2 separate regions of the Homo sapiens genome follow, and region 1 is linked to region 2. Evidence: fine-mapped QTL for protein levels in blood plasma. Region 2 holds a variant in brackets. A gene starts in the other region. All regions are shown on their reverse strands.

What was found. A credible set is the group of variants that fine-mapping cannot tell apart. PIP is the chance, under the fine-mapping model, that this variant and not a neighbour inherited with it causes the effect. The UK Biobank Pharma Proteomics Project read protein levels with antibody pairs (Olink). The fine-mapping took linkage between variants from a reference panel, not from the people measured, so its PIPs are less certain.
Region 1: it holds the start of WASL, and the variant in region 2 is the best candidate, but not a certain one, in a credible set for the plasma level of the WASL protein (UK Biobank, PIP 0.69).

What each region holds. Positions count from the first base shown.
Region 1 is chr7:123,740,726-123,756,837 of GRCh38, reverse strand. WASL (WASP like actin nucleation promoting factor) reads left to right here and starts at 7,835. Exons shown (of 11, transcript NM_003941.4): 1 at 7,835-8,220. The coding sequence starts at 8,104. It overlaps WASL-DT (WASL divergent transcript), which reads right to left and starts at 7,643. Exons shown (of 1, transcript NR_170281.1): 1 at 5,857-7,643. RefSeq lists silencers at 7,553-7,872, 8,333-8,422 and enhancers at 7,451-8,105, 8,865-8,914.
Region 2 is chr2:203,872,496-203,887,816 of GRCh38, reverse strand. CTLA4 (cytotoxic T-lymphocyte associated protein 4) reads right to left here. Exons shown (of 4, transcript NM_005214.5): 4 at 13,852-15,109. The coding sequence ends at 15,005. Among named protein-coding and RNA genes, the nearest start is that of CTLA4, 12 kb to the right of the region's middle. The variant C/T (reference allele first, on the strand shown) is at 13,621.

The sequences.
Region 1 (16,112 bases), not on the chromosome of region 2:
CATGCAATCCAGTTTTGAATATAAATGGCAAATATTAGATCAATAATTCCATGAAACCACAGTCACCAATTACCCTTCCTTCCTGCTCTGAGGTAACTAAAAGCAGGATTTTTATGTTCTGGGGATTGTATTCTTTACCAATCCCTCTTTCAATAGAGTAGGCTTATGATAAGGCTTATATATTCATTTTCATACCACCAAAAAAGGATTTGTAATAGTGAAAAAGCCATGAAATTGTTTATATTCCCTTATGCACTGCCTTTTACCCATTGCTTTTTAAAATGCAGGATTTTTTTAAAATCCAAAATACATGGGATTGATTATATAATTTTGAGCTGAGAAGGACCTTAGCAATCATTAAGTCATTCCTTTCATTTTACAAATGAGTAAAGAGAAGCATGATGAAGTTGAGTGATTTTAGTAAGATTTCATGGCTAGTTACTATCGGAACTCAGATCAGAAAAGCTATAGCTAATAAATACCTGCTTGCCCTTACAGCTATTTTGCCAGGTGTGAACAATGAAGACATTCCACCTACAGACTCTATCCTATCTAGGTCTTAAACTGACAAGAATAAATCCCAGTGGTTCATTACAAGTTCCGTCCCCTCAAAAGAATATGATTCAAACATAGTTTGTGTAATGCCATAAGCCTTATATGCTTGGGAAAGGGTGGAAGGTGGCTGGTGGGGGTGGTAAATTTCATCCCCTGGAGGTCGTCTTGAAGGTCTACTTATTGGAATCACCAGGAGGGCTTCTTAAAACATAGACTGATGAGTCCTATCCCCAGAGTTTCAGGTTCAGTGGGTCAAGAGTGGGGCCTGAGAATGTGCATTTCTAACATGTGATGCTAATGCTGCTATGAGAACTGCTGGCCAGTCTCCCCCAGTCCATTGGGATGCCAGCCTATTTTTTGTCCTGGTTATTTTCACTTTAGTTTCCAACGCTCCTGGATACTAAGCTTGCTTCCATATGCTTCCAGAGTTGCTTTCTAAGACCAAGTGAAGCCTTGACTTAGTGTTTTTGCAATCACTTCATGCTAAAAACTATTATTCCCCCAAATCCCTAAAATATGACACACATTTCTTTTCTCAGACTAGGCCCCTGGACACCTGAGCTCACTCAGGAGGAAAAAAAAAAAATCACTTTATCCTCTGGACTTGAATTAGGTTGCTGGGTCATCTCAAGTGGAGGTCATTCCTTTCTATTGCTGTTGTCACAAGCCCTGCTCCTGCTACCATTAGGTTGTGTGCAGTTTCTTATGTATTGTGTTTTCTCTCCAGGTGCTCTCAGAATACCACATGCTTAGTACTGTGTGGAAGAGTTTGGGCAAGACTGTGGTTTCTCTTTATTTGATCTCAGATCCTGTGTAACTATCTTTGTACCTGATAAAAATTCATATGTTTTTATTTGAATCAAAGGTGGTCATTTGATCTACAAATATACGTTGAATAATGTATAGGTTCAATGTTAAGACTAAAAAGATACAAAGATGAATAAGACATGATACCAGCTCTTAGAGAGCTTTGAGGCTAATGTAGGAGACAAACATTTAAAAAGTAATTACAATTTACAAATGAAAAGCCTGCATATCACTGACTTTGACAATTTATTATATCAAAATGACTTACTTCAATTTGCTTTAATGAATCAGCTAAATAGCTATTTATAGATAAATGATATCAACGTGTATGAACATATAGTACTAACCCATTCAACCATTACCAACTTTCTAAGGACAAGTAACCTAGTTAATGTGGGGGAAAAACACAGTTCTTATTAAAGACTTTGTATGGAGGCAAAAATAAATAAAGACTATTTACTTCCTAGATACAGAGTTTTACAATTTTATTATGTATGTAATATGCATGTAATTCAGTACACAAAAATGCTATCATCTTGATAAAATTGGAAAGCATTAATATTTCATATTATTGCTTTTTCTTAACAAAGACCCTCTCCCCAGTCATCAAACATCCTGAAGTTCCAACTGTCCCCAGTTGAATTCACTAGCTGCTGAGTACCTTTTGAATACTTTTTCTGTGTTCATGGAATTTCTGACCTTATGAATCCGCAGACCCTTAACAACGAGCCTGAAATCTCCAGCTCTTTTGCAGCTAGGGTACAGGTATGTGACCTTTCCCTCATCAGACACACCCATGGGCAACTGTGATTTGAAAACACATAAAGTGAAGAAGCATGTGGCAAAGGGCAGCAAGGATGGCAGCAGAAACACCCTGCTTTTAGAATCTCAGAAGAGATTCTAGTTTCCAATTCCCAATGTTAGCAGTAAATCTATAGTATCTCTGCCCAGAGATGACCACACTGAAGGGCTCACTGGAGTAGTTCCACAGTGAAACTTGGGTGTGCTTTCTAATTGTATAGAATGAGTCAGAAAATCTGACATTTGACCAACAGGCATTCCAGAAAGCGAAAAGAGAAAAAAGGGGAAGAAAAATATGAAAATAACAAAAGAAAAATTTCCAGCACTAAAAGACATGAGTTTTTGGATAAAAAGGGCCTTTGGAATACCCAGTACAATAAATGTAAAAGTATTCCACTATGGTACATCATCAACTTTCAGAATTCCATAAACAAACAGAATTCTGAAAACTTTTAGAGGTCATAAAGACTTATATACAAAAGATCAGAATCAGAATAACTTCAGATTTCAACAGCAATGTTGAAAGTTCGAAATCAATAAAATAACACCTTCAAATACTGAAGAAAACTGGTATTCAACCTGAAATTTTCTACCCTGTTAAACTAATCAACCAAGAGTGAGATTAGAATAAAACTATCAGCTATGCAAGGTCTCAAAATTTTACTATCTATGCACTTTTTCTTAGGAAGCCACTAAAGGATATACACTATCAAAACAAGGGAGTACATCAAGATGGATGACATAGGTTCCAAGAAACAGAGGGTCTAATACAGAAAGATAAAGGGAAATCCCAGGATAGTAACTCAATAAAATTCCAGACAATAGCCATGTAGCAACAGTACAGATTAATATGGGATGATGGATGGCTTTGGGAGACAGGTCTTTGATTAAAATTAGTGAGTCTAATAGATTCCTGATACACTTGATTATGTGGAAAATAATATGAGGAAGGACTTTATAGTTCTTAATATAGAAGAAATAAAAGAAATAAAATTTAAGCAAATTATTGAGGGGGGTAAAATCCAACAAAGTTAAAGTGGTCCAAGAATGTAACTTCTGTTTTATGCTGTTTTAAGTTTTGTACTACTATTTGATTTTTTAAATTATGTGCATTTATCATTTGTATAAAAATAAAAATTGATTTTAAAAATGTTACATGGTAGCAGAGACCATATCCTTGACCCCAATAATTTCAATGTGGTAATGGGGACATGTGGCATCTTCAAATTTTCCCAAGTATCCAGCCTGCCTACTCATTTATAATGTAGATTGACCTTGAGAACATTACAATAAAGAAATCAATGTTGTTCTCTCTCATTTGGAATAATAATAAGCCATTGAATATTCATTAAAGTTAAAGAGCAGCCAGAAAACCATAAGCAGCATCCTGGGAACTATAACATACTTAGCTCTTCAAATCATTTCTTGATTACAGGTAAGTACTAGGTATTTGGAGACTAGGACATATAATGGTAGTAACTATCACTGGTAATTTTGTAGCATGAATAAGTGTTCAATTTTCCACTAACTTCAATAAGAAATCAGAATGATTTGTAAATAAACTATTTATTCCTAAAAAAGAAAGCCCCAAAGAGGTTTGTAGTTAAAATGAATTTAAAAAGGAGAGGCAGAAAAAAAATGGTGTGCTAGCTTACTTTTCAGAATTTAGTTGATGAAAAAGAAAACAATTAACATTTAACTTGGGATAACATGTACTAGAATAAATTCTTGTAAGCATTGCCATATGCAACATTTACATAAAAATGTGCAGATATTTTACAAGACGAACATTTTAGACACATGACATTTCTGGAGGTTGCATGGGAGAAGTAGCACTCATTGCCCCTGCACTTTTTCTGCAAATCCAGATTTGCAGTATTCAGATTTGCTGTTGTTCTGTCTCTATAAAATCAGTTCTGCCATAGCCAAGCAGCAATTATGGCTACAATGGCTGCTGAATGCCGTGTGCTTTCAGCCACCTTTATATTCCCCCACAGTAAAGGGTGTCACTACATTTTAAATTATTAACATTAGCAAGGGGAATAGGGTGTTTCAGAGGACTTTTAACAGTACATAAACAATGACATTTGTAAAGAAGAAAAATATATAACAAAGAACCGTAACAAGAGAAGCTTGCAAAGTACCCATAAGGATAACAGCAGGAATGTATCTGAAAATATGCTCTCATTTCCATAATAAGCTACCCTAATGTTTTCTGTTAAAATGAGGGCTTTACCTTAAAAGATCATACCAAAGAAAGAAGAAAATGAAGTACTAGAATAGATGCTAGTTGAGGTAAGGAGAGTCAAATGGAAGAAATTAAATGTAAGAATTGCCTTTTTTTTGTTATATTCATATACACCGTAATAAAGCTTTTTTTCACAGCCCTCTCCCACTACTCTTTCCTGTCTTCAAAATAGGTTGGTGGTCTACAAGCTCTGAAAGCTGGTATTTCTAGCATATGCATTTTATATGTATATTAAGATAAAACCCCTAGTCTTCTTAACAGCGCTTACAAACTTCAAGATACTCTGTTGAAGGGAAACAGAATGCTTATGTCCTGGATAAAATCCAATCTCTCAAACTGGGTAAAAAAATTTGAGATAAGGAAATAACTTGCCAAAGAAAACAGAGAGAAAAGATGTCTTGTGTTCTGCCAAACAGAGGATATGCTATCAAGAATGAAAGAAAGGACTTGCTAAAACTTTTGAAACAAAAACAGCCAGTACTGCTTGGTCTCAGGATGAGTATGGAAAAATAGAATCCTTTATGTATGGTAAGGAGGGAATCCCCAAATATTGCTTGTTCACAGGCTTAAATGAGTAAGGAAGTCATATTTCCAGTGAAATGTTCATGCTTACATTTTCCACATCAAGAGTTGGAAAAAGCCCAGAGAAAAACAAAAATAACAATGGAGGGTAGAAGACAAGAACTTAAATTGCAATTTTGTGGACAAAGGACTATACTAAAAATTTGGAGAAAAATTAAAGAAAGGTTGGACCTGAGGAAAAAAGTCTACTGTGGTCATCATTTTCCATCTCCAAGTCTAAAGAAAACAGAAAAAGGGCAAATAGTAAAAAGAAAATTGCATTTAGATAAGTCATAAAATTTCCTGAAAGAAAAGAAAATCAAAACAATAGATAGTCTAGGCTAGTAAGAGGTTGTGAAATGATTGGAACTCAATAATTCTCAGAATGAGATAAATTCTTGAACGCAGCTACTGTCCATTCACCTATCATCTCATGGCCTTTTTTTTTTTTTTCACAGCCCTCTCCCACTACTCTTTCCTGTCTTCAAAATAGTTTGGTGGTCTACAAGTTCTAAAAGCTGGTATTTCTAACATAAAATTTGCTAATCTTTCAGTTTTTATTAAATTAGAAGCTAATAGGATTCTATCTCTGGATTTACAGTTTTAAAAAGTTTTATTTTGGCATACTGGGATATATGTAGCCTATTTGATATAATATATGGCCTAATCAGAAATTCTGCTATCAAGTTCTTCACTATATTTTTGAAAAAATATGTACAATTGTATATTTGAAGGACAGTTTTTGAAGAGTCAGAATTAGAACAAAGGTAAGAATACATATATTAAGTCTTGATCCCTTAGCTCAGGGAAAGCAGAAAAGACCATAGGCAAGGACTGTCAATGGCCGACAACTAATACTTGAGTAACCACTATGTATCAGGTACTTTACATGTGATACCTTTTTTTAATGTCTTATAATTTTAGTTTAAAAAAATTTTAATACACAATAACTGTACATATTTATGGGGGTACATAGTGATGTTGCAATACATATAACATATAGTGATTAGGGTAATTAGCATATCTATCATCTCAAAAACTTATGTCTTTGTTTTGGGAACATGCAATATCCTTCTTCTAGCTATTTGAAACTATACAATATTGTTAACTATAGTCATCCTACAGTGCTACAGAACACTAGAACTTATACCTCCTATCTAGTTGTAATTGTGTATTTTACAACTTTGAAGTAGGTGTAATTATCCCTATTTAGACTATACCTGTATGAAACAGAAATTATTTTCATTTTACAGATGAGGAAACAGACGCAGAGAAGTAATTTGTCCAAAGTCCATAGGGTTGTAAGACTCATAACAAGAACTACAACTTGGGCCTATCTGAATCTTATACTTCTGGTACTATACTTGTTCACAGGTTTGAAAAGAGCTTTAATTTCTATTATTTCTCAAGAATTTGTAATGCTTTCTCTTGTCACTGTGCTTTCAACTTAGAGGAGTTGCAGTTTTGATAAAAGACAAACTGATTTAGCTTCTAGGTTTGTTAAATATGTAATTCAGAGGCAACTCCAGGCTTATATTTCTACGACTGCTTTCTAAATCTAATTATTTTATAAATAGTCCTGTTGCTTTAATTCACTTTTTACCCTAACATAATTAATCAAGTTTAACTTTGAAATCTCCATATTTTATGTGAGAACTCCCAAGGCTATCCACTTTTATTTTCCTTTGTAAATTTATTGTTGCTCAGCCTATTTCATTAATGGCAGCTTTAATTATAATATTTTATTATATTTTCAAAGTGCATGATAATGGTTTACCAGTCTGGTTAGTACATCAGAGATTTCTATTGGGAGCTATCAGAGATGTTAACATCCAACAATTTTACCAAAGTGTAATTGTTATAGACGTCTTAACATGAATTTACGCAACAAAAATATGTTTAATGTGGAGAACAGTGAGATGCATATTTGATAATTCACTGCAGTCTGCATCATCATCTCTATATTCCAAAATTTCGTCTTAAGCCGTTTAGTATTTAACTTACAGAAGAAAGGGGGTTATCTTAGATAACTTTTAATATCCTAAGGTATTTTCCAATTCACGATACAGGGAGAAAAGAAATGTGTCCAGGCCCTTAGAAGAAAATACTTTGAATTTAAATGTGACACATACATTAAACCCGCGTGACACGCCAGGCAGGCGGTGGAAGTCAAGTGCATTTGTTTTTGTTTCATCCACCAGGGCGATCTCTTTCACAATTCTGGGAGAGGCCTGTTTGTTCCTCCACTCCCACAGCTGAAGTTTGGGACAAAGTTTGAGAAAATCCCAGGCACCTGCGGCTCCTATCGAAGCCGGCGAGGAGCACAGGGTAGAGCGTCTCTTCCCAGTTTTCAGTCTTCAGATCGCAGGCCTCTCGGACCCGCAGAGCGAGCTTCACGCTGCAGCGCTTGAGAAATAAGAGCTATTCCAAGGAGGGGCCCTGGGTCCTCACTGACGCTTCGCAAAGGTGTACGTCCGCCCAGGGAAGGCCGGCGGCGCAGCGACGGCGAGGAGTCCCCATCCATCTTCTCTTCAAGCAGCAGTAGCTGGGTTCGGGTACCCAACCGACGAGCCGAGACGCCAGAGGCCAGAGTACGAAGTTGGAAGCCTGCGCCCCAAGCCAACCGGGATTCCACTTAGCTCCGCGCGGTCCGCGCCTCGGCCGGAAGGGGGCGTGGCTTCGGGCCCGCGCCGCGAGGCCCGCCGCCGAGTGGGGGGGTTTCTCCCGGGCCGCAGCCGCGCGTTTCCGGCGCGCTCCCCCGCGCCCTCCGTCCTGTGGTCTCGCCCGCCCCCGCTGCCATGTTGGATTGTGCGGCCGCCGCCGCCGCTGCGGGAGGGTTGGGGGAGGAGTTGGGAGTTTAGCGCAGTCGCCGGAGTGCGAGGACAACGACCATCCGGCCCTAGCCTGGCCGGGCGGGTGCCGGGAGCTTCCCTTTCTCAGCGCGGCGCGAAGGTGGCTCGCCGTCAGCGCCTGCTTCCCTCGACCTCGTCCTCCTCCCCGCTCCGGAGGAGCTGCGAGATGTGGCGCCTCTGACTCCACTTCTCCCCGCCCCTGTCACCGAGAGGGGGAACGAGCTCTCGCCCACTCGCCGGAGGAGACGGCCCTGGACTCCCAACCCCGCCGGCGAAACCATGAGCTCCGTCCAGCAGCAGCCGCCGCCGCCGCGGAGGGTCACCAACGTGGGGTCCCTGTTGCTCACCCCGCAGGAGAACGAGTCCCTCTTCACTTTCCTCGGCAAGAAATGTGTGGTCAGTGGACGAGACCCGCGTCGCCACCCGTGACATTACCTCACGGGCCCGGGCTTGGGGGCCGGGAAGTGGGAGTGGGGAAGGAGGCGGGAGCGGCGCGGGCCAGGCCTCCCGCCAGCCCCGGCCCCGGCCCCGGCCCCTCGTCGGCGCCCTCGCCCTGCTCCCAGGGTGCGGGCCGTGGCGGTCGGGCGCCGCCTTCCCGAGCTGCTGGAGAATAAGGGAGTGTCACCTCCGCAGGCCTGTCCTCCAGCCTGGCCGGGCCTCGGCCCGCGCCCTTGCTGCTGGTTAAAACTTTATTCTCAGGCCACAAGGGGATTTTCTTGCAAGAGCCGCTTGGTCCTAGAATCTGGGCCCTTGTTCTAGCTCTCGCTTCACCTCTTACTGCTTGATCTGGGGGTACGTTCCTTAACAATGCCAGGTTTGAGGAGTGGATAGGTCGGGGAAGGAAGGTGGTTTTTAATCTCCCATTAGGATTCCAGGAGGGAATGAAGTCGAGTGCAAGAGCCTGGGCTCTCTTCGGATTAGAGAGGGTGCAAGAAATGTTATTGCTCTTCGTTAAAGAGAAACAAGATTTATTTCTCTAGCAACCTTGCCTAGGCCTGGTTTCTACTCTCCTTCCCACTGATTTTTTTTTTCCCCCCATTGGTGGGAGGGGGTGCTGCTCTCCCCGCAGCCATGCGCAGGGAAACCTCAATCTCTGGTAGCTCTTGGCTTTTGGGGCCGAGAATGATTCTTAGTTTGGTGCTGTGCGGCCAATTCCAACCCCAGATGGCCGGTTGGGAGCGAGCAGTTCTGCTGTGGGAAGGGGAATGTGTGTTGTTGACGGAAGCATTCATTACATTGGCTGCTGGCAATTCTGGGGGTGGGGAGGTTCTGCTCTGTGGTGTAGGCCTTGTCGGGATCATACTGCGGTGACTGGGTTGAAGTGTGGTTTGTTGAAATACTGGCTGGATCCCTTTCTCTCCACTTTGCTAGCACCTGCAGAGTATGTGCCACTGGAACCCAGAAAACACGGAAATTTCAACAAAGCAATACCATTTTATAACTCCTTTAAGTAATATTAGGTATGCCAAACCAGATTTCACCTGCTTCTTTAAGAAGTTAGGATTAGACAATTTCTGGAAAGTTATTGGATTCATTGTTAACTTCATAGGAGTCCACCCTTTGTATCTTGTGCCATCCGGTTGGAGATTGAATCGTTCCATTCAATTTCAGATGTGTTTCATATTTCGGAATTTAGACCTTAGAGAACATTGAGTTTCCTGATTAGAAGGATGAAACAAGAGGAGTGGCTCAAAACGAGAATTTTGGGTAACAACTTTAAGCCCCTCCCCATTCACACACACTTTTTTCAACAAATGAGAAAACTGATCCAGTGAGCCCAAGTCATACAGCAATTTAATAATGTAACCAGAACTAGAAAACCAGGACTCCTCACACCTAGTCCTATCCCATTGTACTTTGCACTACATCATGTTGTTTTAGAAGGGTATTTTTTTTTCCTGTTACTGATTTATTTCTAAAAGTGGTGTTAAAGAAATAACCACTTTGCCTTTTTCACCAAAAACTAATTAAAATACAAGATTCTTAAAGCACCACTAATGTTTGCATATGCTCAGTTTAGGAAAATCTTCAGCACTTTGAATGTTAGTTACCTCCAATGAAAAAAATTCAGTTGCTGGTTTAGTAGATTAGCTATGTAACCTGTATCAAAAAGGAAGTAGTTGTGCTGTGTTCTACATACCAGACACATTAACTTTAGGCAGAAAGGACATTACATTTATACACAAGTATACTAATTGTTCTGTGCTTACCTGTAGTTTTACTGGTTTCGAAAAATGGCAGATGGGGAAAAATACTGTGATAGAGAAAAATGATGTTGCACATTGGTTAGTGTAAGTGGATTGCTGAATAGGCTCTCAGTATTCAGTGCTTAATTTCTTTATGCCATCTTTTATTAATCAACTGTACCTTTTGAATTTGTCATTTAAAAACCACACTTTCAGTTGTCTGCTTTTGTGGGATGAAGTCGTTGCAAATACTAATTTCAATATTTGAAGTCCCTAGTTAATAGAGAGTGAAGTAAGAGTGATATTTTAATTTTTGAAATAATCTTTTCCTCCCTTGGCTGATTATTCAGGTTGTTTTTGTCCTTTAAAACATTACTGAAATATATTGTCTCATAATAAATCCAGCAGTAAGATTTACAGGTCAGACCAAATGTGTTAGGCAGAAGTATACTCAGTACTCAGAGCTCTACCTAAGAATTCAAGAAATGAAACAGAAGCAGTTATAGTCGAAGCTCTGGAGGAGCTTCATTTCTTCTTTCATTCAACAAACATGTATTGAATAAATGTTGAGGTCAAAATCTGGAAGGGCTGATACTTGTCCTCAGGGAGCTTACTAGGTCTAAAAAGGGAAACGTGTAAACTGATAAGTCAGTGCTTCAGAGTGATGTGTAAGAGGCTGCTTTTCACAGTAGAAAATGCCTTGGCTTTGTAACAGCAAATGTGGGTTCAAACTGGGGGTCACTTTGGACAAGTTTCTTGAGCTTCCTATCCTAGATTTGGTTTTCTCATCTGTAAAACAAGGATACTATCTCATGGGGTAGTTGTGTGGATTAAGACTGTGTATAAATATATGGAAACTATTTTTATAAAGGTTTAGGGGATTAAAGGAGAGAATGGTGGGAGAGAGGATGATTAAAAGCTTTTTAAAATGGATAACTGATTATTTATATTTAAACAGGTACTCCCTAGGCTGATGAGAGGTATGAAACAGCTTGAAAAGTTAGGAGACCTACTAATAAGTTTGTTAGGTTTGTTAGGGAGCAAGGAGGGCTTCTGCTTGGGCTCTCAGATTTAGGTATGAATTGGAATCATTGTGGAGATTATGAGAAATGCATATGCCTAGGCCCAATTCCTAGATATTACTCAGAATCACTGGATCTGAGGTGAAGCTTGGACATGTCTATTTTTAGCAAGCTTGACAGAAAATTCTAAAGTATATCACAGTTTGAAAACCACTGCTAAAGTCCACGTTGTCTGATAGGATAATCCTTGAGCACATTGGAAATCTTAATAGATTTTTCTTCAATTTTTGGTCTATATTTTGCAAATTGAAGCTAAATTAAGTTAAACCAAATTCTTTTAGTACAGCATTTCTCTCACCGCTGAAGATACCAGTGTACATTTCACAACTAAGAAGGAGATACAGTTGGGGAAGTATTGCACTATTTAATGGGGACTCACAAGATCATATTTGACTTAGAAAATTTTCAGGGGAAAGGTGGAGGCAGTATAGAAGGTGGATTGAGGATTGTGAGGGAAAGACAAGGGAAATCAGATAGTTGATTTATAGTATTGCAGGTGAAATATGATGAGGGCCTGAATTAAGAGAGTACTTTGGGAATTCAAGAACAATTAAAGTCTCCAGCAGAAATTAGTCCCAGTTATATATAGAAGGTGAGGGAAGGGAGTTTCAATAAAGGCAGGCATTATAACCACCAGCAGAAAAAGTACACAGAAACATATTTTTATTCTCATTCGCTGCAAATATGCCTAAATGTTAATGAGACTCTGGATTGGTGATTGGCTTCATGGAGGAGGCAGATCATCAGTAAATCTTTTGTTTTACCACAGTTTCTAAAAATTCATTTTGTGGAAATTGAGATTTCATTGTAATACATAAATACATGATATGTACTTTTACATAAATAGTTCTGATGCCATTCATTAGCTGGTAGTATTATGAAGGGAGAATGAGAAGGTTATAAACAAGATTACTAGGTCTTATTTTGTAGTTAGATCTGTTGCCTTTCATGTAGTGTGATTCAGTTAATTTTATATAAAGAGTATGTGCAGTTTTGCTAAGTGAAGTTCAACATATATAGTCCTGAATAAGTGAGAAACTAAGGAATAGGAAAAAATAAAACATTAAACTACGTCTCTACAGCCATATCTGGTTTATATGGATTGGGGCTGATAATGTTATTGAGCATTATCTTTCCCTGCCATACTCACCTGGTTTGTTTTTTCAAGATTTAGTGATACTTAAGCCATTTTTATTAATCAACCTTAATCTTTATTTCCTTTAACTCCTCAGCACTTGTTTTAACTTGCTTATTTTCTTTAGTTTTTTGTTTCCTCACTATATATAATTCTTGGAGATAGACTTTATGCCTAGGTAGTCTTCTATAATTTTTGTAACTTCTGGCTCCCAGATCAGTGAATACTTATTGATTGATTGAATAATTATAATTACTCGTTTATTTTTTAGGAGCTCATTCTGCGTTTCTTATTGCTTGATTAGGTTGTTAAGCCCTTCAGTTTCTAATGCACATGGTATCTGGACTTTAGTCTTCATTTATTAAGCGACCGAAATGGTTTAGTTGTGCTGCTGAACTAATATAGGTGGTAACAGTTGTCTAACAGTAGTTTGTTTGTGTTCTAAATCAGACCTGTTGGGTAGGGATTCTTACATAGGCATACAGGGAAGGATATGCTTAGAGGGATCATTGTATTGATGATGGCCTGAGTAAGGCACTGTTGGTGGAAAGTTTAGACCGGGAATGTATTTCACCTTGAGTAGTAAGGAAAGATAAAAGTTAAAATTCACTGGATTTGGAATATACAAAGATGAGAAGATACCTTTGTCTAGTATAGAGGAAAAAGATGAGCACAAAAATGTATGTGACGCAGCGTAGCTGTAAGCACAAGAAGAGATTCAGAAAAGTCCAACAGGGTTGGGTTATGAATTTTACTTCTGGTTATTCTTAGCTCTATATATATAATACAGGGACATTTCTTAACTAGTCTCAGCCTTCATGTCTAGATTTGTAAAATGGGCTTAGTCAAGGATTTCAAAGAGTAATTCAATCATTATGGAAAATACTTAGAGTCCATGACACAAAGTATTCTGGGAGTTTGGAGGAGCATATGAAAGAAAGTTGTTATGAATACTATTCAGTGCTCAGTTTAGATTTCCTGTTACTGGCAGGGAGGATTTAGAGTAAAATTTTCAGCTCTATATTGTATTTGTTTTGACTTAGGTAAATTAACAATTTTAAAGTCAGTTAATTATAGGTGTGTAAATTAAAAGTTAAGGAGCAGCTTGAATGTATCTCTTTGGGGAGTGTCTGGGCAGCCTGAGCCTCCCTGGCTGCTAATTGAAGAGGAAGAAAGGGGTCCTGATGAAAAAGTTAGGAGTTCCTGAATTTTAGTCCATGCTCTGCTACCATACATTGTGAATATGAACAGGAATTTTTTTTTTTTTTTTTTTTGAGACAGAGTCTTGCTTTGTCGCCAAGGCGGGAGTGCAGTGGCACGATCTCGGCTCACTGCAACCTCGGCCTCCCAGGTTCAAGTTATTCTCCTCCCTCAGCCTCCCAAGTAGCTGGAACTACAGGCGTGTGCCACTACCCCTGGCTAATTTTTGTATTTTTAGTACAGACAGGGTTTCACCATGCTGGCCAGGCTGGTCTCGAACTCCTGACCTCAGGTGATCTGTCCGCTTCAACCTCCCAAAGTGCTGGGATTACAGGTGTGAGCCACTGTGCCTGGCCATTTCTCCCTTCCTGAACTTCACTTTTCTAATTTGAAAATGAAGGGTCAGACAAGATAACTCCACAGTCTTTCCAGCTTTAATGCTTAATCAGTTTAACTATTCTAGATTCCAGGGACTCTAGCAGGGAAAGAACAGGCCTAATGTTAACTCTAGCATATATGTGTTTTGCACAGCCGAGACTAATATAGCATATATCTAAGCAGAAGGTAGATAATCCTGAATTATTTCATTGAAAATTCCCATTTTTAATTCACCTTTTTCTAAGCATTGTAATTTAATAGGCATTTCACTTTTAAAACAGCAGAGTGAACAGAATAAAAAAGCATTAGTAGTAGAATTACCAACTCTTAGCTAACTTAGAATTATTATTTGTAATTATAATGTATTTTTGGGTTATTAGAAACTGCTTTTTTGGTTAAGATGGAATTATTTTTAAGAATTTCTCTTTTGTTAACCAATTCCATCTAGAATCCTAATTCTGGATGAAATTGTATTAGTGATATGATAGGTGTTACATGTTACTGCTTATTTTCCAATATTAAAAAAATCGGTTTTTAGTTTCAGTGGTAGACTTAATAGTTATAGTGAATTGACTTGGTTACTTTAGAGACTGATTCAAGATTGAGGTTACTGTGGGGATTCATTTGTGTGATTAAAATAATCTTGGTTTTCTTAAATTTTTTTGTAATGCACTGGACAACATGCTGAAATTATGGCTTATTATATTAGTGAATTTTGTATTCCTGAAACAGCATACCAAGAGACACTAGAACCTTTGACAGAACTTTTCTGAAACCCAAATGAATGCCAAAATTAGGCATGCTTTTAAGATGCAAAGGGCTGGGTTTTATCTTTTACTGTCTTTCTTGCTTATTCAACTTCTGTTCTTGCTGTGCTCTGGATATTAGAAAGCACAGCTCTTGAGGAAAAGATGTGACTGGGCCTTTTGAACAGTGTCTCTTTCACCAAGTTCTGCCAGTCACTCTTTGGCCATCTCTCTGTTGTGGACAGTTGTAGGGATTTTATTTAAAATATACTATTTTTTTAAAAAGTTATCTTTTAATGTAAAAATTGTATCTATGAGTAATATCAGATTATAAAGTCTGGAAATAAAGTCTTGATTAGAGAGCAGGTTTGATTAGGACATTCAGGATTCCTCATAACATATAGAATTGGAGCTACTTAAGCGTTGGCCAAAGTACAGAGGAGCCGGGTTCTATTTGTTTTGCTGCTGAGCAATTCCTACCATGTGTATCAGTATTCTAGTCTTCTATAGTAAGATTTTTAAAAAGTCTTTATAAAAACTGGTAAGAGCAAAACTTTCCTAAGGAAATGCATGCTTGTAGTAATCTCATGTATTTCACTTTTGTCCATATTCTATAGATTTTTTAAATAAATAATATTAATGGAAGTATAATGGTAGCCCATTCTAGTTTTGAGTAGAAAAACAGATTTTAAAAGAGCAGATAAGGGTTGAACTTTGTTATAATTTATTCTGTCTAGAAGTCATAGCTTTCCTAATAGAGTTCACTCTTACTCTAAAGGTTCTAGAAACAAAAGTTTATACATTCATAGTCACAGTAATAGGATATACATTGTTAACTATAAATATAATTCTTATAGGTCACCTAGCATCGTTGATGGATTCTTGGAAACTGTGACTTTAGGTGAAACAACACATAATGAAACCAGTTTTACCATAGGGTAATTGATATAAACAAGAGCTAAGTTTCTGTAGCATATATCACCAAACTTCTAAATAAAGACAAAAACACTTCTAATATTAATTAATGAAATAAATGTGAGCTGTAACACATTTAAGAAAGAGTAATAAAAACAAGATAATTATTTACCCAGTTACTTCACTTCAGTCTCAGGTGGCTGGAGCCTATCCTGGCAGCTCAGGGTACAAGGCAAGAACCAACCCTGGACAGGACATCATCCCATCGCAGGGTGCACTCATACCTACACCCACAACTCACTCGCACACTTGCTCATCCTGGGATAATGTAGACAGACCAGTGAACCTAACATGCACATTTTTGGGATGTGGGAGGAAATCCAAGTACCCAGAGAACCCAATAGACATGGGGAGTACCTGCAAACTCCACACAGACAGTGACCCCAGCTTGAAAATGATTTTCTTTTCTCATCAAAGTTAATAATGGGCTGGACGTGGTGGTTCACACCTTTAATCGCAGCGCTTTGGGAGGCTGAGGCAGGAAGATCACTTGAGGCCAGTAGTTTGCCACCAGCGTGGGCAACATAGACCTAATCTCTACAAGAAAAAGTAGCTGGTAGTGGTGGCCCATGTCTGTAGTCCCAGT
Region 2 (15,321 bases):
TTTATTCATGTAGCTGTAGCTATTCTGCTACTAGGAGTGTGTGTTTGAAACAGACATAATGTCTGGAAGGAAAGAAAACACCCAAAAGAAAAAAACTAAACACATATCATTTTTTTCTCAATGATCTTTGCCACCTACACATATATTAAACACATCATACTCTTCAAAACATCTTTATAGAAGAAGACATCTATAGAGATTTTATAGAAGAAGACTTCAAAGAGAAGACTATCTCAAGGTTGAATGTAAGTGGATGAGCTTCAACTCTACATTGCTCAAACACTGATAGGCCTCCATGAGATGCCTCTTCCCTTATGGAAGACAGAGAAATGCCTCTGTCCATCTTACAACGCTAAAAATGGCTAAATAAACCCTGCCACTTAAATGGAGCTTCTTGGTTATAATTTTTAGTACAGCATCTGATTTAAGGCATCATTTTGTAGTGCGGATAGCCTGTGATTTTGAATGGCAGCATAGAATGCAATTGAGAAGAATCTTTTGTAAAATATTTCAACAGGGATGAAGAGAAGGGTCCTTGGGCCTACCTGATAAGGGTTCAACATGGGAAAACTGAATGGCCGCTCTTGGGAAAGGGGACTCTTTGAGTCCCAACAAGCTCTAGTGTTGAATGTTTTCATACTAATAACATGAGCGTGTTTTTTAAAGAGTATTGTGGTGACCAGATTTGCCAAGGAGATAGGAAATCTGAGTAATGAGTGAAGCTGCCTGTCAATCATAAGGTAATTTGATAGGTGAAACAGAAACAGGTCTCTTGAGAAATGGTTGGCCACAGGGTGCGACACCTCATGAAATTTCTTGCTGGTGAAACTCTCTTCCTTTGCTGAGAAGGTCTCATTTGCTGAGCTTTCACAGATGTAGAAATATGGACTCAGCAGGTTGCAAAGCCAATTGACAGTTTCAATCGTGTCACTTACAAGAAGAATTTGATAACCAATTCAGAAATGAATTGTGCTCCTTTCCTCTCTTGATTAGCATACCTCACCAAACTCATTCTGACTGTTCCAAGTGTGCCATCTCAAGTCTTACTTGTTGTGGAGCTTATATATTGAGTTCTTTCCAGAGAGCAAAGCTCTGCGGTTTGTGTGGAGTGGGGAAGGAAGGGCATCTATTACAAAATCAAATGACTTGCCTTTCATTCAGCAATAAAAATTAACATTCTAGCAAGAAAGACCTAGGAACACAGGCTGTGTTGAATAATTTTACTTGCTCATTTCAAAACTTACAGGTCAATAATTCTATTAACATTTATGTTCCTTACTAAATATATCACAGAGATACTATCACAATAAAATGAAGCTGAAAATAGATTGAGTGAGTAAGAACACCCTAATACAACTCTATTTCTTAACAAAGTTAATTAACATCCCTAAGCCTTGACCCTCTTATCTATAAATCCTGATCAGCCTGGCACTACATAGTTCTAGGACAGTTATGATGGCCAAAGAAACTACCATTTCCTTTGACTACTACATTTCAGCACTACACATGAACATGCTTTTAAAACAGAAATGTGTTCCTCAAATGGAGGATAGTGAGAAAATTCAAACCCAGGGGATTAAATAACTTGCATGAAACTGGCAATTAATTGGTGATGGGGCTGGGACACAGAGCTAGCCATTTTTATTTGCTAGCCAGATATCTTTCTTCTCCAGACCTTGTTACTTTTACAATTTCTTCTTGTGAAACCAACATAGCCACTTTAAAAGGCATGCCTTAGAAATAAGCGCTATACTCAGGCCTTTATTACCTACAAGCAATTGAAAGAGTTTAACATCAAAAAATGGAACAGCTATTCAAATGGCCATCTTCTAACTAATCAGGTACTCTTTCCACTAGAGATATTCAATGAAAACCTGTTCTATGCCAGTCATTCCTCAGTGTCTAAGCCATCACAGTGGAAAAAATGGGCAAACTGAAAAGAAAATATTTTCAAGAACCCTCAATACTGCCAGTGACAAACCCATTAACAATATACAAATTACTGATCATTGTAATTTATGTCCACGATTACATGTATGATTAACTAAAATGCAACTTGCTCAACATAGTTCATTTCCAAGACACAGGGACTTGAGATGTTCCCTCATATGAATGAGGACTGCTTAATTCTGTTTTCAGGCTCTTAACGAAAGGAGAGAGGAGGAAGGAAAGAAGAAATTGACCTTTCTAAAGGCCATTTTCCAATTCCAATCTAACTTTAGGTTTCTTTTTTCTTAAATTCACGCCTTCTAAGTTACTGAGCTGAATCAAATCGCAGCATCCAGGCCTGGTGTGCACAGTGACAAGCGTTTCCAGGGGATTGCCTTGTACTTCCCACAGATCACACCTTGCTTAGTATACCCAGATGTACCCCCTCCAAGCAACATCACACACTGCTTACTCATGCCTGGGTCTTTTGCTGATGCACTTGCACACAGTCAGGCGTTTATTACCTGGTATTTCTGTAATTTGCTTTTCTTCACAAAGCCCACTTCTCTACACTTGTTCTTGATTGGAATTCACCTTGTTCGTAACTGAAAACCTCTGCAGTTTATCATAAAGTCACTCTAAATTCTAATGATAGCCCAGTAGCCTCTCAGACCTAGAAAAAACCTTGGAGACAGTGATTCTGACCAACCCCCTTCTGCTCTAGAGGAGGAAATGGAGACCCAGAGGCATAAAAGGACATTTCCAGGAATATGTAATGTCTTGGTTAAGATTTCGGCACAAAATGGAATTCGTCTCAGATAATTTGACTGATGAAATATGAATTTAAAAAACTGCTTATAGAGGAGTGGACAGGATTAAGGCAAAACAGTGGATGCTGAGACCCCCCTCCACCCCCACCCCAGCAACCTGCACCAGCAGAAACTCCTACTTCTACAAGGTCTAAGACGAAACGGGAAAACAACCACCAAAGCCCAGTGAGGGCAGGAAGATAGGAGGGGCCGCCGGACCACTCAAGATGTAATCAAGAAAGGACACAACTACAGCCCTGGATGCTGTGTCAAAGCAGAGATGAATGGAAGAAATATCCCAACCACTCTTCTGCCCACTCTCTCATCTCCTGCTGTGTCTTCTGGGGGTGGATTTCCACAGGGCAGGGCTGGCAGGGGATGTGGCCCATTTAGGTCAGCTCCCCCAGGCATAGAACTGAGCAGGGATAGAGAATCAATTTAGAGGAGCAAAGGGAGAACAACCAACAGATATAGTGAATTCAACCACCTAGCCTCCATTTTCACCAGGATCCATCTCATTACAAAGGCTCTTATTTGCCTAACAAATATTTACTGACGGGAAAATAAAGAAAAGGTAAAAGAAATGCAGGCAAGTAGGAAAAACGTAGAACAACCCTATGCCAAGCACTGAACCAAATACTATGAGGGGTCAAAAAGAAATAATAAAAATATACTATAGTAATATACTTACCACATATATCAATATTATATAGTATTTACCCTGTGTCAGGCCCATTCTAAGCACTTCATATATAGTAACTCATTTAACCTGCAACCTCATTTTACAGATGAGGAAACTGAGGCATAGTGCATTGAGAAGGTTAGGCCCTAATCCTTTTGCTGAAAGGCCATGCTTTCACCACTACTCTACACTGCCTCTCTAAAGTAAAAAAGTCCCTTGGGGAATTCATTAGATATTTAGGGAGATAGTACCATTAATGCACAAAAACTTAATTGTCAGAGTTAAACAATCACAATTTGCATCATTACAAGACAGCATGCGAATGAGTCCGGAGTGGGGAGTTCAGCTTGGGCTGGAGCAATCCGGGAAGAGACAAAGGTGATTATTAAACAGCGCCTAATCCAGAAACAGCACCAGGCAATGGCAGACCTGCTGGGGCAGAGCCAAGAGCAGAACCCAGGACTCCTAGTTCTCCAGGGAAGGATTACTAGTTCCCTTGCCCTTGACAATTGTCTTTGCAGGGCTTCACAGAAGTGTTCTCAGGGACAGAGTTCCAATTCACAGATCTGGTACCTCATCCAACAGGATCCCAGAGGGTCACCTCGCCCAGCCTCCTTCCCTCAGCCCAGGAAATATTATACGCTCTTTTGTCAAATGAAGCAACTCTTCTGCTCTCATTTTCTAGATTCTGCGGGAAGGCCAGTGACCAGTAATTTTTAAATAACTAAACATAAGTTGGGCATGGTGGCTCACATCCGTAATCCCAGCACTTTGGGAGGCTGAGGCAGGCAGATCACTTGAGGTCAGTGATCAGTTTGAGAGCAACCTTGCCAACATGCTGAAAACCCATCTCTACCAAAAATACAAAAATTATCCTGGCGTACAAAAATTATCCTGGTGTGGTGGCACACTCCTCTAATCCCAGCTACTTGGGAGGCTGAGGCAAGAGCATCACTTGAACCCGGGAAGTGGAGGTTGCACTCCAGCCTGGGCGACAGAGCAAGACTTTGTCTCAAAAACAAACAGACAAACAAACAAACAAAAACATAGACTTGTAAATCTATGCACAGGAAAACATTCAAACAGCAGAATATAAGCAAAGTAAGACTAACCTTGTATGCTAAACATTTGTCCTTATTACAATCACTCTTGAATATAATTTAGACTCTGAGACAGATGCTTACATTTACTTTCTTAACTATCTCCCTCTTAGAAATGTGCAGTATTTAATAAAAATATTAATGGAGGTCTTTTTGTTTAAGGACCAAAGTAATTGTCTTCACATGTGTATGCATTTTGACACTGAAAGGAATAGAGATCGCATTTGGTTTTATGATGTTGCTATGTGGTTTTCAATTAGGTTTCTGTTACGTTCTACAAACACAAAAACCAGCCCGTATCTAATTTAATACCTATAAATTTCCACAGATGGCCGCGGAATACTGTAGGCCAGTGGATAAAGATTTTGCCACATGTTTTCCAATTAGTAACTTAAAATTCTGTTTCTACCACATTCTTTTTTATTAAAAATTTCCATTCACTATTTTTTTTTCCAGAGAGCGTGATTATAAAATAATTCTCTCAGTTTCACTAGACAAAAAAGACATCTGATTTGAAACAGTTTGTAGGTTAGGCAGCCAAGTTAGACAGAAATAGTTCAGCTGCAACTGAATAAAGCCAATAGTGTTAGGATGGTTGTCAAAAGTCAGATTCATCAAGACCAGTTTGATCCCAGTGTATATAATGCACCACAGAAGATGGAATTTTTTTATTTTTCTGAGACAGGGTCTCACTCTGTCACCCAGACTGGAGTGCAGTAGCACAGTCATGGCTCACTGCAGCCCCAACCTCCTGGGCTCAAGAGATCCTCCCACCTCAGCCTCCCGAGTTGCTGGCGCATGCCCCCACACCTAGCTAATTTTTGTATTTTTCATGGAGACAGGGTTTCGCCGTGTTGCCCAGGTTGGTCTTAATGTCCTGAGCTCAAGCAGTCTTCCTGCCTTGGTCTCCCAAATTGCTGGGATTACAGGCATAAGCCACTGCATGCAGCCTAGAAGATGGAAATTTCTGAGGGTATAGCAGGAGAACTTTACTTCTAGAGCAGCCACGAAATTCCTTCTACGTCTGTCTATGCTCAAAAATGCAGCTTTGTTCTCCTGCCACCTGAGCTCATGCCAATGTGCTGAAGGGTACAACATTGAGTGCAAGATTTAAGGAAAAGAGCACAGAGTTTGAAATTAGACTGACTTGAATTCAAATCCATTTCTACCACTTACTACGATGAGATCTGGGGCAAATTATTTGACAAAAATAGAAATAATATCTTCCTCTTTAAAGGTTTGGGTAGACAAATATGGTAAGCACTCTCTCATTGCCCACCGTGAGCTCAATCTCGAGAAGCGACAAGGTCATAAACAAAGGTTGATACCGCAGAGTGATAAGAGCCAAATGATTAAAGGACCAAATGAAGTGAGAGTAACCATGTATGAGGGTTTAGGAAGGCTTTACAGAAGAGGGGACATGTGAGCTGGGTCTTAGAAAAGGCAGGAAGTAGCTTAAAATCTCTAGATTCTCAATGACATCTTGAGTGCCAACTGTGATGATGATCCATGGTTCCCTAGAGAACTGCATTGAAAAGAATTTTTAGGACACAACCGGGATCAGTGACCCAGCCTATGGCAATATCTCTAGGCAACGTCTCTGTATTAGTCAGGGTTCTCTAGAGGGACAGAACGAATGGGATAGATAGATAGATAGATAGATAGATAGATAGATAGATAGATATAAAGGGGTGTTTATTAAGTATTAACCCGCATGATCAAAATGTCCCACAATAGGCCATCTACAGGCTGAGGAGCAAAGAGAGCCAGCCTGAGTTCCAAAACTGAAGAACTTCAAGTCCGATGTAGGAGGACAGGGAGCAGCCAGCACGGGAAAAAGATGTAGGCTGGGAGGCTAGGCCAGTCTCTCTTTTCACATTTTTCTGCCATGCTGGCAGCTGATTAGATTGTGCCTACCCAGATTAAGGGTGGGTCTGCCTTTCCCAGTACACTGACTCAAATGTTAATCTCCTTTGGCAACACCCTCACAGACACGCCCAGGATCAACACTTTGTATCCTTCAATCCAATCAAGTTGACACTCAGTATTAACCATCTCAGTCTCCAAGAGGTAGTCCTCCCCAGTTTATGGGGTTTAACTAGTTGTTGGCCTCAGTTTACTGGCCCAGCATTCCAATTCTCCATGATACCCTGCCTAGCCTCCCCATAAGTGTGGGATCCTATTCTCTGTACTTCCAAATGTTGGCAGGTATCCTAATGTGAACTGATTGACCCACCAGAAGGTCAACGTCTATCTGGCTTTGGGCATTTCCTGCCACATCCTTTCCTGCTGTGGCACCCTCCTGCTAAGGTAGATCTCTGTGCACAGTGACGCCTGCCTGAATGGAGCCTGAACCCGTAACAAGTCTCAGAGGCAGGCCGTAGGAGGAGCTAGGCCAGCAGGAGCTAGTCATTCAAGCAGGTCTACTTCCCCAGGCCCCTGCCCAACTAGGTCCTCTGATGCCTTCCTTTACCCACCAGCTGCTGTTAGTGAGGATCCAACAGGCCTGCCTCTGGCCAGTCTGCAGTACGACAGGGTCCAATGCCCTCTCTCTGACTCTGAATCCAAGCCTAAAACAGGAAGAAAAATAATACCAACCCCCTCTTTCGTCATGTGCTTCTGTGGAACACCAGCGCTGAGTGCTCCAGGAAGCCCACAAAGAAAATCTAATCTATTTTTCATGTGACAGCCCTTCACACCTTACACACAACTTTCATGCCATCCTTGAATCATGTCTTCTCAGGCACAAATTACAAACACTATCAACACTCGAATTGGCACAAGTGCAGTCCATGCTACGCAGCTCCGCCTAGGCCTAAAGCACTCAGGGGTTCCTTTGTGATGTTTCCTGACACCACCCCTCCATAATCAGCTTTCACCCCTGCTTGGTGCCCACACACACACCACACACACACCACACACACACCTGCCTCCACCCCCAGCGATTCAGAGTGGAATCATTACTTTTAACTTCCATTCCCAGCAGGGAAAGTCTTTTTTTGCTTTGACCCCAGATATTCCTACACTTCAACTTCTGGTAGAAATTACTTATGCATAGCTACCTCCATCACAATCTCGGCTGACCAGCTCCCTGCTTCTGCCTAGAGCCTCTCTCAATCTTCTATGTGGCCTGTGGCATTGGACCCAGCTCTATAACTTTTTTCACCGTATACCAGTTCACTTAATTTGCCATTTGGGGGCATCTTCAGGCCCTGGAGTCTGCTTTTGCCCTCTATTTTTTTTCCTCAAAGGGAGTCATTGCCTTTTCCCAGCATCCCTCAGCCTGAACTCAGAGACCCTCCCTCCTCTTCACCCCCGACGCCCCACCCTCAGCTTCTGCTCCAGGCTGGTTATTACCCTTTTAGAAACTAGCCCCATTCCAAAGTTCACAAATATGAATGCAAGGTAGCTCCCACTGACTTCCATTGTTCATTATGTCCTGTATCTCTAGCCTGTTTCAAATGGAGAATCACCCTCTTCGCAAGGAGCGTGCTGCAGGTGTCATGAAGATCAGAGCTTCTCACTGGCTGTGTTAATGATTTCCATTTTCCCCCATCTCTGAGCCAAGCATCAGTGTGAGAGAACCTATGATACCTTAGGGCCAGAAAGGCATGCAAGCCAGCAATATTGCAGCGCTGACTTCAGCGCCAGTAAATGGGAAAGCAGCTAGTTACTGCTAAAACTGTGGATTGGAGCCAGTGGTCCATCTTTGAATGTCTTCAACTTCCTGTTTTCCTCTCTGGTTACAGGAGAGAGCTGCTGCTGGTGACAATCTCAAAATAAGCACCTTCAGAAAGCTTTTTAAAATATTTGTCCAAAAAAACATTGGCTGATATATCAACACCCATTTGTAACCCCTGTAATACATGCATTACTTCTCCAATACTTCAATCCCCATTCACCTTCCATTTTGCTCTTTTCCTTTTGCCAGTAACCCCCAGAAGTCAGATATGGTCATTCGAAAAGAACATGGTCTTTGGAATTAAACATGTGTCCTAATCCTGATTCTGCAACTTACTAGCTGTTTGGCTTTGGGCAAGTAATTAAACCTTTCGGAACTTAATTTCCTCGTTTATAAAATGGAGATGATGGCAGAACCTCTTCCACAGAGTTACTGTGGGAATTGCTTTAGCTAATGTACATCCATTTGTGCAGTATTTGAGGCTTCATAAGTTGGTTTCCTTTCCCTCTTCATTCAGGACAAGGAATTCATGAACTATATCTTAGTGAATCAGCTTCCTCAATAGGAAAGGAATACAAGGCTAGTCTTCATTTACAAATCCATATTTCCTGTCCTTAACATACTGCTATGGTTTACCATAATGCCAGGGGCAAAAAGGTGCTCACAGGAGAGTAGAGACTATGTTTGAGTTGCACGCTAACTACAAAGAAGGAGACAGAGTCTCACTCTGTTGCCCAGGTGGGAGTGCAGTGGCATGATCTTGGCTCACTGCAACCTCTGCCTCCCAGGTTCAAGCAATTCTCCTGCCTCAGCCACCCGAGTAGCGGGGATTACAGGAGCCCACCACCACACCCAGGTAATTTTTTTTTTTTTTTTTTTTTTTTTTTTTAGTAGAGACAGGGTTTCACCATGTTGGCCAGGCTGGTCTCGAACTCCTGACCTCAAGAGGTCCGCCCGCCTGGGCCTCCCAAAGTGCTGGGATTACAGGCATGAGCCACCGCACCTGGCCAGAAAAACTCATTTTCAGCAAGGTGAAGAGAAAAGCTACCAGTGGGATGCATGCTGCACGGCTAACATGACAAGGTGGAAGCAGGAAGAAAATGACAAGCAGGAAGAAAAAGGTGATGATGTCCTTCAGGAAAGTGCTGCTCATGAGAAGTCATCTGTGTTATCTTCTAAAATTTGCGATCATCCCCTGAAATATATTTCTTACAATTCCTCTCAGAGGAAGCTGCTTCTTTTTGTCCAAATAGATAGTATTACTTTGTGTGATTAATACCATGTTTCTGAAACACTGTTAGTTGCTATAGTAACTTGACTGTGTGTGATTAAAAGAGCATGTATCATCTCAATGGGTTGTTCCACGACTTCCAGTGGCAATAGGAGCTTTCTCAGTGTACTGCCGGCTTTGCTGACAGACTGTTTATTGGCAGCGTTTTGCTTTGTGTTGTCCGCCTGCAGCATTTTTCTGTAGGATTGCTAAGAACAGGCTGGGTCACCTGAGATGCTTCTCCTAAGTCCTCTGGAAGGGTACAGGAGAAAGAGAAAAGATGAAGCCAACATTGGAGCAGCAACAGTGGTGATAATCACACCGAGATGTAACAGGAGTACTTGGGATGGAGATGGATGGAAAAGTGGGTTTTCTGTGGGTGGCCTGGAGTGGTAGCAGGGACGTCCTAGAAGCAGCCTGGAAAGGACAGCCCCTGGTCAGAAAGGTGCACAGTGCCACCCTCTGCAGAGCCCTGATGTGAAAACCTGGAGATCTGACTTCTTAGCCTAGTTCAAGTCCTGCCTCGCCATAGGACCTTGGACAAGGTCCCTAAAGTCTCCGAGCCTTATGTTCTTCTAAAATCTGAGGATCATTTCCAATATCCTTTGCTAATCATCTATGATGGTAGAATCCTGAGTTAGATCAGAGCTTATGAACTATGGCCTAAAGGCTCTCTGAAGAATTAAAATCCCCAGGCCCTGCCTCAGACCTTATAAGTGAGAAGTTCTGGTTCAGAGGAACTTCAATCTGCACTTTTTCCAAATGCTTCAGATGATTATTGTACGAAATAAATGCAAGAACATAGAGTGTGCCCATGAAAGCAGATTTCCAAGAAGGGTCTGAATGTCAAGTTCCTTGCAATATGCAGCAGGATGGGTTAACTTCCTCTAAGAAAATTGCTTAGAAGAGAAATAGCTACCTCTTCTGCAGGTCTCATTAGCTTCCAGTGACATAGCATCAATCCCACATGTGCCTGGAAGTGAGAACAGGAGATTGTGTTACAGTTGGAACAGTGGTCACAGTCTCAAGTTGTTCTTGCTCAGAAACTTCTGAAGAGGGGTCTCTAGTACACTTTTCTTTTCTTTTTCTTTTTCTTTTTTTTTTTTCTGAGATGGAGCCTTGCCCTGTCACCCAGGCTGGAGTACAGTGGCGTGATCTTGCTCACTGCAACCTCTGCCTCCCGGTTCAAGCGATTCTCCTGCCTCAGCCTCCCGAATAGCTGGGACTACAGGCACCTGCCACCATACCCGGCTAATTTTCATATTTTTAGTAGACACAGGGTTTCACCATGTTGGCCAGGCTGGTCTCAAACTCCTGACCTCAAGTGATTTGTCCACCTCAGCTCTTAAAGTGCTGGGATTACAGGTGTGAGCCACTGCACCCAGCCTCTAGTACACTTTTTATTCACACTGCATTAGAAGCATAAGCTTTCCTGCTGATAGCGTTGTCAGATAAAATACAGGGCATCCTGTTTTCTTGTTTTTGTGGCGTTTTTTGGTTGAATCTGGCAAACTTACCATGAGCCCCTATCCCAGCATGTAGCCAAGGAAACATAAAAGAGGAAAGAATAAATTTTCCTCCCTTTTTACCAATAGGGTGTGTCATGTTTCTGGACTGAACAGAAAAAATTGACCTGAGATGAGAAAAAATATATATATATGAAATAAAACAAGGTTTCTAAGGAGCCTGAGTCATGGCTCTAACCAGGTGCAAACAACAAGTAAGGCAATGGGAATAACTTTCCGGAGAAAGCCATGTTCTCCTTTGCTTTGAGAACTCCCAAAAGAATAACTAAATTTATAAAGTCTTGAACTTCTCAACTGGCTTTGCTCCAGTTAACAACACAGTGACATCAATGTTTCACGAGCTCAGTCCCAACTAAGTTGAATGAACTATTAACTGTGGATACGGAAGAAGGCTCAGACTGGGTATAAAAATATAGTCAATTTTAGCAACAACCAACAATTCAAAAGAGAAAAAGAATAAAAATAAGAATTCAACAAAGAAAGAAAAAGATTGGAAGTAAGACTGGATTAAGATCAAAGTAGAATGAGTGGGACAGAGTAGGCAGCTGGAACTCACAGTCCAGAGTCTTTAAGGTTTAAGCCAAAAGATGAGTAGACCTGCACAAAGTTCTGATGATCAAATGGGAAAGAGATTAAGCTGGGACTGCCTAAGAAAACACAGATGGGTTCTGTATGGAAAACGGTCCTGGATGTCCTAGTTCCCCAACTCCTCAATTCATTTATTGGAGCATCTACTGTGTGCCTAAAGTTGTGATTATCCCTGTCTTGGAGAAGTTCCTGATCTAACTAGGTAGAAAAGACATGCATGCTTGAAATTATTAGAGGTGAAACCAAGTATAGCTATGAAACAAAAGAGGAGAAATCCACGAGCTTAAAGTGTCAGCAAATCTGACGGTGGAGGCAAAATTTGGGATTAGTCTTGATGGGTGTGACAATGAAGGATTATAATATTTGGAGGTGAGAAATGAAGAAATGGGAAGTAGCAGGAATGCGAGTACCATGCTGAAGAAGAGACATGAGCAGAGGCGTGTGCTAGGAGCCATGTTGGAGGAGGAACTGACTCTGGAGCCCCTGGCCACTCTATCCGGCTCCCTTGTCATCCACAGTCTTGCCTGTGACAAGTGGTTCCAAGGAGGAGGGTTGCAACGCCCAGGCTCCCCCTGCATGGTAGGCCAAGCCCCTTTTGGGTTCATGGATTATTTGGGCTTGGAGCTGCCCCAGGACCCTGATCCCAGAAATGGAGATGATGATGAAGGTTGGAATCCCATGTGACAGTTGGTCCTCTGATTTGGGGGCAGTTCACCTCTCTGAGTACTACAGACATAGAATCTTCTCTCATAAATGACATGGGAATTAGAAGAGGCTTTCATTTGGTGCCCAGATGCACTCCCTTACCCTCATATTTGCTTTCTCCCCTTTCAGCGGAACCCCGGGTCATAGTCTTTCTTGTACAATTCTTCTGCCATAGGGGAAGCTTTTTTGAGCTAAAGGGTATTTTATTTTTATAAGATTGAGACTGAATGAAGAGGGCAAGTCTTATCTCAGTGAACAACAAATGGTAGAATTTTAGGCAATAGCAGAGGAAATATTAAGCTTATATAAAGTAGTCCATTATCTAAGGGTGTCTGAAAGGTACCTGGAGGGCATCACTTGTGTAAGGCACTCTCTGTCACTCAGATCTGCCCATCAACTATGAAAAAGAGTAATCTCTCTAAAGATGTTTAGAGGAGTGGAAATGATATACTATCCACTGAGGCTCCTGATTGGTGTTTTTCTTCATGGCTACCATCCAAAGGCCTAGAGAGCAAGAAGCACAGTCTTCCACAGAAAAGGAGCTCATTCTAGGTAATAATCATTACCTTACTTTGAAAGACCTATTCGTTTTTTTTTAACAACCCCTTTTGAAATGCTTACTATGTGCTGTCTTGTGTGTTTGTTAGCACTTGCTGGGGCAAGAAAGAGAGAAAGAGAGCAAGAGCAAGCAAGAGAATGAGCAAGGGGGAGAGACAGAGGAAGAGACACAGACAGAGTTGCCTAAGCAGTGATTCTCAAAACTTGATGGGTATAAGAAGCACTGGGAAGATTTTTGGAAATACAAACTCCTGGCCCCACCACTCAAAGATTCTGATTCAACGCATCTGGGAATAAGTGTGAATTGGTGTTTTTAGTAAGTGACCCAGTGGATTCAGTTACAGGTGGTCCCTGACCACACTGAGAATCACTGCAAAAGACAATAACAGGATGTGGAGGTCAAAAATAGGAAACCTTAAGTGGAAACCAAATGTGCTGAGACTATACATTGGTTAAGCAAGAATCACAGAGGGCTTAGTGTGCCAGGCCTAGGTGTGCCAGCTGATAGCAACATAGGACCACAGGTGTGTGTTTTCCCCACATTTGCAAAATAGTTCATTTGGAAGCCACAGGGAAAAGCTCTATATTTCAGGAAGGCAGATCAAAATGGCTGCAAGGGACGTGGTTGCCAACATTGGGGTTGCCATGACAACTGTAATGCCTGTGATAGTTGAGCTGAGAAAGCAGGCGGTAAGAAAGGGGAGGTGAAGAACCTGTGTTAAACAGCATGCCAATTGATTTATAAAGGACTGCTATGTCTGTGTTAACCCA[C/T]GTTATATCCCAAATAGTGGTGAAGAAATCAAAAGGAAAGAGGATGGATACCTTCCAAGAATGACTTGCAGGTAATGGCTGGTGCAAAGCTGACTCATGAAGCATTATTTGTCCTTTTGTGGTTTTTCAGTTTGTTTCCAGTATTTCTAATATTGGAGACTCCACCAGATACTGAATGAATCAATCAAAAATTTGAACACAATATTCAAATGCAAGGATGATAAAGACAACTCCGGAAAACGACCACCACAGATTTTTATTTAATTAAAAATATTATACATGTTGTTGCATTTTCATGGAAAATATTGAGTTAAAAACACAAGCAGTGTTAATTTTCAGAAACCTTCATGCACCCCATTCTGCCACCTGCTGCCTTCTTCTGTCCATGGCATTAACCACATGTTTGTAAGAATTGGGCCCATCGAACTGGAGCTTCCTAGAAGGTCATACCTGTGGGTCTCCTGGAGTAAGCCATTGTCTTCAAGACAGTGTTCTGTCAAGTCAACTCAGATACCACCAGCTGTGGCTTCCTTGCAAACCATTGAAAGGAACTGGTGTAAAAGCCCCAAAGCACATGTCAACACCAACTCAGCACAATTCCACGCAATCAAGCACTGCTATGACCTCATCCAGTTTCCAAGCTAGTTAGCAAATGACCTTGTGTTCTACCTGGTGTATTAGTGTCCTGAGCTCCTCCACAAAACTTCCCTGGGACCCAAGGTGGAAAGACACTGCCATATAGTGTTTATATTCAAACCATTAACAAATACACAAAAACATACGTGGCTCTATGCACAATACTATCAAATTAAAATATATATATATATATATATATATATATATATATATATATATATATATATATATATGTATATATGCAATACAACCTTTAGCATCACTGGCTAAAACATAGCCATGTGAGTATTTTTGAAGCCTTGATGTAATCATACATTTGTTTAAGAAATAAAAGGCATAAAATTTAACTTGAAAAGATCATTTCGGCTATAAACGTCTCATACGTAAATATAAGGTGTGTACAATATAGTCTTCTCCCTCGCTCCCTGCCTTTTCCTTCTTTGGGCTGTGCCATTCCCTAACTTAATTCCTTGACCCACATCATAATGCTGCATCCCCATATTAATCCCAAGTGATGCTTTCACTGAAAGTGGAGCTGATGTGACAGAAACATCCCAGCTCTGTCTTTCTACTCCTTTGCTTTAAATTGTAGTACACGTAATTTGGGTTCCGCATCCAACTTTATATTAAAGAGAGATGAATTCCCCCCAAATGCACAAACAAATAAAAATAGCTGGATAGCAAAAAAGTTAGAATTGCCTCAGCTCTTGGAAATTGAAATATGGACTCTCTTCTTCATAATGGTTTCTCAATTGATGGGAATAAAATAAGGCTGAAATTGCTTTTCACATTCTGGCTCTGTTGGGGGCATTTTCACATAGACCCCTGTTGTAAGAGGGCTTCTTTTCTTTAGCTGTCAAACACAAAAAGAAACAGTAATTACTACTGAGGAATACGGAAGCCACTTCTAACCATAATAGAACTCAACACATATTGGGTCCCTAGCTGGTTAAAAATGAATGTTCACAGCATACAGAATTATAAACCTCAGGAGATTTTCTTGATTCAGCTATTAAAATTTATTTTAGATAAATAACTGTGATTTTGATGTTAAATGGCAATCAT